Homo sapiens: one gene and its partner. The protein of the gene in region 1 purifies or fractionates together with the protein of each later gene. This does not show direct contact. Each region holds a gene or a part of one and is shown on either strand. Other genes may lie near its edges.

The links. The genes of interacting proteins can lie anywhere in the genome.
Region 2: the proteins of SH2B3 (region 1) and HAVCR2 purify together in Homo sapiens (pull-down; one study listed by IntAct). This does not show direct contact.

What each region holds. Positions count from the first base shown.
Region 1 is NC_000012.12:111,419,423-111,424,774, reverse strand, and holds part of SH2B3 (SH2B adapter protein 3), read right to left. Parts: intron 4,367-5,352; exon of another isoform or gene 4,287-4,366; intron 1-4,286. UniProt on the Homo sapiens protein: Links T-cell receptor activation signal to phospholipase C-gamma-1, GRB2 and phosphatidylinositol 3-kinase.
Region 2 is NC_000005.10:157,102,545-157,106,970, reverse strand, and holds part of HAVCR2 (hepatitis A virus cellular receptor 2 precursor), read left to right. Parts: intron 1-8; coding exon 9-344; intron 345-2,221; coding exon 2,222-2,305; intron 2,306-4,426. UniProt on the Homo sapiens protein: Cell surface receptor implicated in modulating innate and adaptive immune responses. Generally accepted to have an inhibiting function.

The sequences.
Region 1 (5,352 bases):
AGAGTTGTGGTCTGAGCACCCTTGGCCCATCACCTGGACACAGATTCACTGAGGGGATGCTCCTGAGCCGCCCGGACTGTTCCACCTGATGCTCCGAGGGGCTAGGAGAAGCCTCCCCAGGGCTGCTTGCTTTGCAGGCAACACCCCAGGCCCCGCAGCAACCACCAAGCCTGTGACAGAGCCCCAGCCAGCCAGGGCTACGGCAAAGCCCTCTGGGACCTCCCTGGTTCCCTGGATTGGGAAAAGCCCTAGGGAATCTGATGGGGCCCTACCATCAGGGCTCCCAGAGAACAGGAGTCTTGGGGATGCCTTCCCCTGAGGGCCCAGCAAGCACTGGAAATAAACCTGGGCTCTCCGCCCGAAGTCAAAACCATAACAAACCACAACAACCGTGGCAACAGCAACACAGCACTCATGGAGTGCTCCCAGCGCCAGGCACGTGGCACATGCGCTCTCCCCACCAAGACACACAGCCCTATGGGGTAGGAACTATGAGTACTCCCCAATGTACAGAGGGGGAAACTGAGTCTCAGAAAGGTGATACCACTTGCCCCAGAGCTGAGAAAGCAGCTTATTCATTATTCAAACCCAGGGCCAGCTGGCTCCCAACACCTGGTCTTCCAAGATTATTTTTATTTTTTATATATTCACTTATTTTTTTTGAGATGGAGTTTCGCTCTTGTCACCCAGGCTAGAGTGCAGTAGCACGATCTCAGCTCACTGCAACCTCCGCCTCCTGGGTTCAAGTGATTCTCCTGCCTCAGCCTCCGTAGTAGCTGGGATTACAGGCATGTGCCACCACACCAGGCTGATTTTGTATTTTCAGTAGAGACGGGGTTTCACCATGTTGGTCAGGCTGGTCTCGAGCTCCTGACCTCAGGTGATCCACCTGCCTCAGCCTCCCAAAGTGCTGGGATTATAGGCATGAGCCACACGCTTGGCCACCAAGATATTTTTTAGTAGAGATGGGGTTTCACCATGTTGGCCAGGCTGGTCTCGAACTCCCAATCTCAGGTAATCTGCCTTGGTCTCCCTAAGTGCTGGGATTACTGGCATGAGCCACTGCGCCCAGCCACTGAGGTTGTTTTTCAAAGTTAAGAACCCTGGACGGGCGCAGTGGCTCACGCCTGTAATCCCGGCACTTTGGGAGGCTGAGGCGGGCAGATAACGAGGTCAGGAGATCGAAACCATCCGGGCTAACACGGTGAAACCCCATCTCTACTAAAAATACAAAAAAATTAGCCAGGTGTGGTGGCGGGCACCTGTAGTCCCAGCTACCCGGGAGGCTGAGGCAGGAGAATGGCATGAACCCGGGAGGCGGAGCTGGCAGTGAGCTGACACCGTGCCACTGCACTCCAGCCTGGGCAACAGAGCAAGACTCTGTCTCAAAAAAATAAAAAATAAAAAAATAAAAACCCTACAGTGTCACACAGATAAGATCATGTATTGGGGCCGTTATTTGTCTTTCATGGTGTCACAGCCTTGAGATTTTTAACAAATGATGAGAAAACCGTTTTTTATCTGTGCTTGCGTTTTCCCAACAGCTTCTGATTGTGCTTGGAATAAAACACTAAGTCCTCCCGTTCCCAGTGTCCTCCACCCACATGTACTTCCCCGCTCCCCATCTCCCTCTCTCTGCTCCCACCACACCGGCCTCTTCATCTTGTCCTTTCTTCAAAACATGCTAAACACATTCCCCACTCAGGGTCTCTGCCCATGCTGTTCCCTCTGCCTGGAAGGCCCAGTGATTTACTTAGAATGAAAGTAAGTGACCTCCTGGCCAGGCGTGGTGGCTCGCACCTGTAATCCCAGCACTTTGGGAGGCCGAGGCGGACAGATCACCTGAGGTCAGGAGTTCAAGACCAGCCTGGCCAACATGGTGAAACCCCATCTCTACTAAAAATACAAAAATTGAGGCCAGGTGAGGTAGCTCACGCCTGTAATCCCAGTACTTTGGGAGGCTGAGGCAGGTGGATCACGAGGTCAGGAGTTCAAGACCAGCCTGGCCAACATGGCGAAAACCCATCTCTACTAAAAATACAAAAAATTAGCCAGGCGTGGTAGCATGCGCCTGTAATCCCAGCTACTCGGGAGGCTGAGGCAGGAGAATCACTTGAACCCAGGAGGCAGAGGTTGCAGTGAGCCGAGATTGCGCCACTGCACTCCAGCCTGGGCAACAGAGTGAGACTCCATCTCAAGAAAAAAAAAAAACAAAACTGCTTTTCATGAAAAGCCAGGCCATAAAGGTAGGAAATGACTTTTAAAACGCAAAGAAATTGTCCAAAATATATAACGACTTTTACAAATCAATTTAAAAAAGGCTAGACAGACAATAAAAACATGTACTTCACAAACGACCAAATTCCGATGACCAATCAACATATGAAAAGGTGCTTAACCTCCATGAGTCATCAGGGAAACGCAAAGTAAAGCCACCTTGAGATCCAGGAACGCAGCCACCGGTGACTCTTAACACCAAGTGCCTGGCTAACATGGTGAAACCCCATTTCTACTAAAAATACAAAAATCAGCTGGGTGTGGTGGCACGCGCCTATAATCCCAGCTATTTGGGAGGCTAAGGCAGGAGAATCAGCTTGAACCCAGGAGACGGAGGTTGCAGTGAGCCGAGATTGTGCCTCTGCACTCCAGCCTGGGCAACAGAGCGAGACTCCGTCTCAAAACAAAAACAAAACAAAACACAAAAAAACCCACCAAGTGCTCAAGTGTTGGTGGGGAAGTGGAACCACCCGGAACTCTCGCCCACTGCCGGTGGGACACAAAATGGTGCAGCTGCTTTGGGAAAAGTCTGGCAATTTCTCTAAAGTAAACATGTACCTACTCTATGACTGAGCAATGCCACTTCTAGGAATCCACCTGAGAGAAATGAAAGGATGTGTGTCCATATTTAGACTTAGATGCAAACTTCATAACAGCCTTATTCATAAATCAAAATAGAAACAACCCAAATATTCATCAACAGAGGATGGGATAAACCAGTTGTGGGACATGGAGACAGCTGTGCAATGGAATCTATTCAGTACTCAAAAGAAACAAACCCGGCTGGGCGTGGTGGCTCATGCCAGTAATCATAGCACTTTGGGAGGCCGAAGTGGGGGGACCATTTGAGCCCAGGAGTTCGAGACCAGCCTTGACAACATGGTGAAATCCCATCTCCACAAAAAATACAAAAATTAGCCAGGTGTGGTGGCACGTGCCTGTGGTCCCAGTTACTCGGGAGGCTGAGGTGGGAGGACTGCTTGAGCCCAGGAGGACAAGAGGCAGAGGATGCAGTAAGCTGAGATCGAGCCACTGCACTCCAGCTGGGTGACAGAGCGAGACCTTGTCTCAAAAAAAAAAAAAAAAAAAAAAAAAAGGAAGACACTATTGACATGTACGATCAATGTGATCAATCTCTAAAACATTATGCTGGGCAAAAGGAGCCAGAAATAAAAGGCAACCTATTTATTAGCTGGGAGTGGTGGCACGTGACGGTGATCCCAGCTACTGGGGAGGCTGAGGCACAAAAATAACCTGAGGCTGGGAGGTTGAGGCTACAGCGAGCCATGATCACACCACTGCACTCCAGCCTAGGTGACACAGTGAGACCCTGTCTCAAAATAAAATAATAAAATAAAACAAAGGCAACCTACTGTGTGATTCCATTCACATGATGTTCAAGAACAGAGAAATCGAACCTGTGGTGATAAGAGGTGGTATGTATGGGGGTACAGGGCACTGGCCTGGGGGAGGCATGAAGGAGCCCTCTGGGGTGCTGGTCACTTGCGTTGCACACACACGGAAACACAGAGCTTCAGATGTGTCTCATACTTCACGCACTTCCAGGTCTGCATGTTACGCCACAGTCAGTTTGAAAACGTTACTTCAAAGGATTCTTGGATGACTCTCCCAAACCGCCAAACCGGGACCCCTCAGTTATCCTCCCAGAGACCCCATTGCTTTTCCTTTAGAACACAGTTTACCAGTTTTAGAACACAATTTACCATTTTTAATTCCATGCTCATCTGTGGGTTTATTTCCTCAACAGCCTCCACTAGGCCCGCCTGGTCCCCCAGAACCTAGCATGTGCCTAACACATAGTAGGTGCTCCATAAATATCTGTCGAATGAATGAAAGAGTAACCATAGGTTTCCTCCACCCACATCGTGAGCCCCTCAGGGCCAGTATCACATCGGTTTTGCTCATGCTCTAGAGTAAGGCCCTACCACGTAACAGGATCCCAAAGAGAGAGCAATTAGATGAAAGCCATATGGTCCTGTCATGCATACCTGAGTCAAAGATGGAGCCTGGCAGGTGAGTAGAACACAGTGACCTTTCAGCCTCAACAGCACAGTAGGAATTAAGCCAGCTGTGAAGGAAAAGAACTTTTTTTTTTTTTTTTTTTTTTTTGAGACAGGGTCTCGCTCTGTCACCCAGGCTGTAGTGCTGTGGTGCGATCTTGGCTTACTGCAGCCTTGGTCTTCTGGGCTCAAGCGATCTTCCCACCATAGCCTCCAGAGTAGCTGGGACCACAGGCGTACACCACCACGCCCAGCTAATTTTGGTATTTTTTGTAGCAATGGGGTTTTGCCAAAGGACAAATTCTTTTTAACTTGCAAAATATCACCAAGGCACAGGAGGTGCAGAGAAATTCTCTGAAGGTTTTGAGCCCTCTGGAAATAAAACACCAATCTGTCAATGCCAGTCTGAGTCAGAGTTTTCAAGGATCTCAGAGTGACCTGCTACCAGCCCACATGACACCCAAATGTGAAGGCAAAAAGGTGTCCCTGGACATTGTACAAAATCCTTGACTGGTACTCCTCAAAACTGCCAAGGCTATCAGCAATAGAGGGTTGGAAACTGTTACAGCCAAGAGGCGCCTAAGGAGACGTAACGACTAAACCTCATGTGGTATCCTGGGGGGCGAGCTGGAACAGAAAAGGGACATTAGAGGAAAACTGGCAAAGCCAAAGGAACAGTGGCGTTTAGCTAATAGTGATGTACCCGTGCTGGTTCCTTAGCTACAACCAATGTACACAGCAGCGTAAGATGTGAACCTTCGGTGAAGCTGGGTACCATGTGTAAAGGAACACTACTATCTTTGCAACTTTCCTGTAAGTCTAAACATTTTTTTTTTTTTTGAGACAGAGTCTCACTCTGTCACCAAGGCTGGAATACAGTGGTGCAATCTTAGTTCACTGTAACTTTCCCTCCCAGGTTCAAGTGATTCTCCTGACTCAGCCTCCCAAGTAGCCGGGATTACAGGCGTGCGCCACTGTGCTCAGCTAATTTTTTATATTTTTAGTAGAGACAGGGTTTCACTATGTTGGCCAGACTGGTCTTGAACCCCTGGCC
Region 2 (4,426 bases), on another chromosome or scaffold:
CTATGCAGGGTCCTCAGAAGTGGAATACAGAGCGGAGGTCGGTCAGAATGCCTATCTGCCCTGCTTCTACACCCCAGCCGCCCCAGGGAACCTCGTGCCCGTCTGCTGGGGCAAAGGAGCCTGTCCTGTGTTTGAATGTGGCAACGTGGTGCTCAGGACTGATGAAAGGGATGTGAATTATTGGACATCCAGATACTGGCTAAATGGGGATTTCCGCAAAGGAGATGTGTCCCTGACCATAGAGAATGTGACTCTAGCAGACAGTGGGATCTACTGCTGCCGGATCCAAATCCCAGGCATAATGAATGATGAAAAATTTAACCTGAAGTTGGTCATCAAACCAGGTGAGTGGACATTTGCATGCCATCTTTATGAATAAGATTTATCTGTGGATCATATTAAAGGTACTGATTGTTCTCATCTCTGACTTCCCTAATTATAGCCCTGGAGGAGGGCCACTAAGACCTAAAGTTTAACAGGCCCCATTGGTGATGCTCAGTGATATTTAACACCTTCTCTCTGTTTTAAAACTCATGGGTGTGCCTGGGCGTGGTGGCTCACACCTCTAATCCCAGCACTTTGGGAGGCTGAGGCCGGTGGATCATGAGGTCAGGAATTCGAGACCAGCCTGGCCAACATAGTAAAACCTTGTCTCCACTAAAAATACAAAAAATTAGCCAGGCATGGTTACGGGAGCCTGTAATTCTAGCTACTTGGGGGGCTGAAGCAGGAGAATCACTTGAACCTGGGAGTCGGAGGTTGTGGTAAGCCAAGATCTCGCCATTGTACTCCAGCCTGGCTGACAAGGGTGAAACTCTGTCTCAAAAAAAAAAAAAGAAAAGAAAAGAAAAGCCAAAACTCATGGGTGGAATGTATAGATGGGATGAAAGGCCTAGATCAGTGGTTAGAGACCCTGACTCTCATTAGAATCACATAGAGAGTTTTTAAACAACTATAGATGCCAGGTACAGTGGCTCATGCCTATAATCCCAATACTTTGAGAGGCTGAAGCAGGAGGATCACTTGAGGTCAGGAGTTTGAGACCAGCCTGGCTGATATACTGTGGCTACCCCTATCTCTTAAAAAGCAGAAGAAAAAACCCCACTACCAAAAACCAGAGAAATCAGCATCTCTGGAGGTAGATGCTAAGCATTAGCTTTTTACAGAGTCTACCTCAGGTGATTTTACCCCAGGTGCAGCCAGCATGGTGAACTGCTGGGTTATGCATGTATGCTGGGAGGTGAACAGACTTAAGATTTCTATAACATGTACTTTGTGCCCAGATAGAGCTGAGTTTACATCTAACTCTGCCTCTTACTAGCTATATAATCCTGAGCAAGTTATTGAAACGCTGTGAGCTCCTCTTCTATAAAATATGACAATAATACCGATCATGTGGGCCATTAGAAGGATTTTATGTGATAATATTTTATTAAAAGCCTTTATAGGTTGGGCATCCCAAATCTGAAAATCTAAAACCTAAAATGCACCAAAATCTGAAATGCTCTAAAATCCAAAACTTTTTGGACACTGACATGACATTCAAAGGAAAAGCTCATTGGAACATAAGTATAGGCAGATACTAAAAAATAAAAAAATAAAAACATGGCTGGGCGTGGTGGCTCATGCCTATAATCCCAGCACTTTGGGAGGCTGAGGTGGGTGGATCACCTGAGGTCGGGAGTTCGAGACCAGTCTGACCAACATGGAGAAACCCTGTCTCTACTAAAAATACAAAATTAGCCAGGTGTGGTTGCACATGCCTGTAGTCCCAGCTACTCAGGAGTCTGAGGCAGGAGAATTGCTTGAACCCAGGAGGCGGAGGTTGCAGTGAGCCGAGATTATGCCATTGCACTCCAGCCTGGGCAACAAGAGCAAAACTCCGTTTCAAAAAAAAAAAAAAAATTCAAAATCTAAAACATTTCTGATCTCAAGCATTTCAGATAAGGAGTCTTCAACCTGTAATTATGGCCATTTGTGTGGCTGTTAGTTCCGCTATTAATAATCAGAATGTAACAATGATGACTGCATCTTACCTTTGTCAAACATTTGAAGTGTGTGATACACTCTCAACGTAGGTATCCAGGCAGGTTTGGAAGCTGAGGGTGTATTTCTCTTTCTTAATTGTCTTTCGCATTTTTTTCTTGCTGCCCCTTTGATTCCCTGAAATAAGCTTTCTGCTCTCAGATAATTTTCATCCTTATGTTGTTTCTGACATTAGCCAAGGTCACCCCTGCACCGACTCGGCAGAGAGACTTCACTGCAGCCTTTCCAAGGATGCTTACCACCAGGGGACATGGCCCAGGTAACTATGCATGGGGCAGAGGAGGGAATCTTTAGCTGGCTCTGAATTCAGAGGATTTTGAATGTGGGAAAAAAAGATGAGAAAACAGTGTGAGAGTGGAGGCATGGATATCTCCGTGCACCTGAAATAGTGTTTGAAAAGAGGGAAGTGGTGGAGACACACCTGTGCTGGGAAAAAGATGGTCTGGCTTAGGATTATTTTACTTAAATTTTAACTGGAAAAAAGTTAATAAACTTTATAGTCTTTAATTTTACTTAAATATTAACTAAATTGAATGAAATGCTCATTACTTTGTCCACATTTTCTGACTGACCCTGGACTGGTGATGTTTGGTCATGAACTGGTGTCAGTCTGTGTTTGGGAACTGACACATTGGATTAGGTGATTTCTAGGATGCCTTCTAGCTAGAATAAAGCCCATCACCTTCCCTGGATTCCAGCCACAGAAAGAATAGTTAAATTCTTCATGTAATTCAGCAAGGACGTACTCAGGGTGCTCCAGAAGAGAACACTGGGCATAAAGCAGAAGTCAAGTCACATTGATCATGAAGGTTAATTTTAAGGTATTTCTTGTCAGTGTCCTGGTCTCTTCTAAACTCTCTGGAGCTCCATTTTTTTTTTCTTCTGTAAAATGAGGTTAATAGGTGAGTCCCACCTCATAATGTCATAAATCTCATAAATCACACCTTATGGGCTTTAAATAAGAAAATGTCTAAAACGTTTATCCCAATGTCTGACCACAATTTGTACATGTTAGCTGTTGTCGTTAATATTATAAGATCAGGAGGCACAGTGAGATTGTGGTTAAAGTACTTCAGTGACAGGTGGAATGGGTTCTAATTTCAGCTGTTCTTGATAGCTCTGTGACCTCAGTCAAGTTGCTCAAATTCTCTGAAGCTCAGTTTGCTCATCTCTACAATGAGGATAATTCCAGTGCCCATGTCATGAGGTGGTTGTAATGTATAAACATGATAATGTATGTAAAATGCTCAGCATAGTACCTGGCCCATAAAAAGCACTCAACTGTTTATTATTACTATAGTTACTGGTTTTAGCTCTCCAAAGTTTCAGTCTTTGGTTAGTCTTTAGTGATTGGTAGCCAACATCTTTTATGCAATTAGAGAGGAAACTAAATATGGTGGGGACAGAAAATAATAAAGTTATACCAGATACTTATTGTATGCCATTGTTATATTTTAAAGAATCTTACAACCATAGTGCTAGAAGGGACTTCAAGGGTCATTTAGTCTCACTTTCCCATCCTGTGCTTCAGTACTTTTTTTTTTTTTTTTAATTGAGACGGAGTCTTGCTCTGTCACCCAGACTAGAGTGCAGTGGCGCAATCTCGGCTCACTGCAAGTTCCGCCTCCTGGGTTCACGCCATTCTCCTGCCTCAGCCTCCCAAGTAGCTGGGACTACAGGCGCCCACCATCAAGCCCAGCTAATTTTTTTCTTTTTTGTATTTTTAGTAGAGACAGAGTTTCACCGTGTTAGCCAGGATGGTCTCCATCTCCTGACCTTGTGATCCTCCCGCCTCGGCCTCCCAAAGTGCTGGGATTACACGCGTGAGCCACCGCGCCCGGCCAGTACTTTTTACTACATCACCACTGAATGGGCATTTGCTGTAGACGGAGTTCACTCCCTGTCGAGGTGGTGCATTTCCTTATACTTGTCTCTACCACAGACAGAAGTCTTCTTTCCTTTAGTTTTTCTTTCCTTTTTTTTTTTTTTTGAGACGGAGTCTCACTCTCTCACCCAGGCTGGAGTGCAATGACACGATCTTGGCTCACTGCAAACTCTGCCTCCCAGGTTCATGCCATTCTCCTGCCTCAGCCTCCCAAGTAGCTGGGATTACAGACGCGCGCCACCACGCCCCGCTAATTTTTGTATTTTTATTAGAGACGGGGTTTCACCATGGTGGCCATGCTGGTCTCGAACTCCTAACCTCAGGTGATCCCTCTGCCTCGGCCTCCCAAAGCGCTGGGATTACAGGTGTAAGCCACCACGCCCAGCCTTCCCTTTAGTTTTTGTTTGTTAGTTCCTTCCCTCTAGGGCAACAAAAATGGGAATATAGGAATAATACCTCGAACCTCTGAGCTTCTCAAGGGCCTGACTGAGAAAA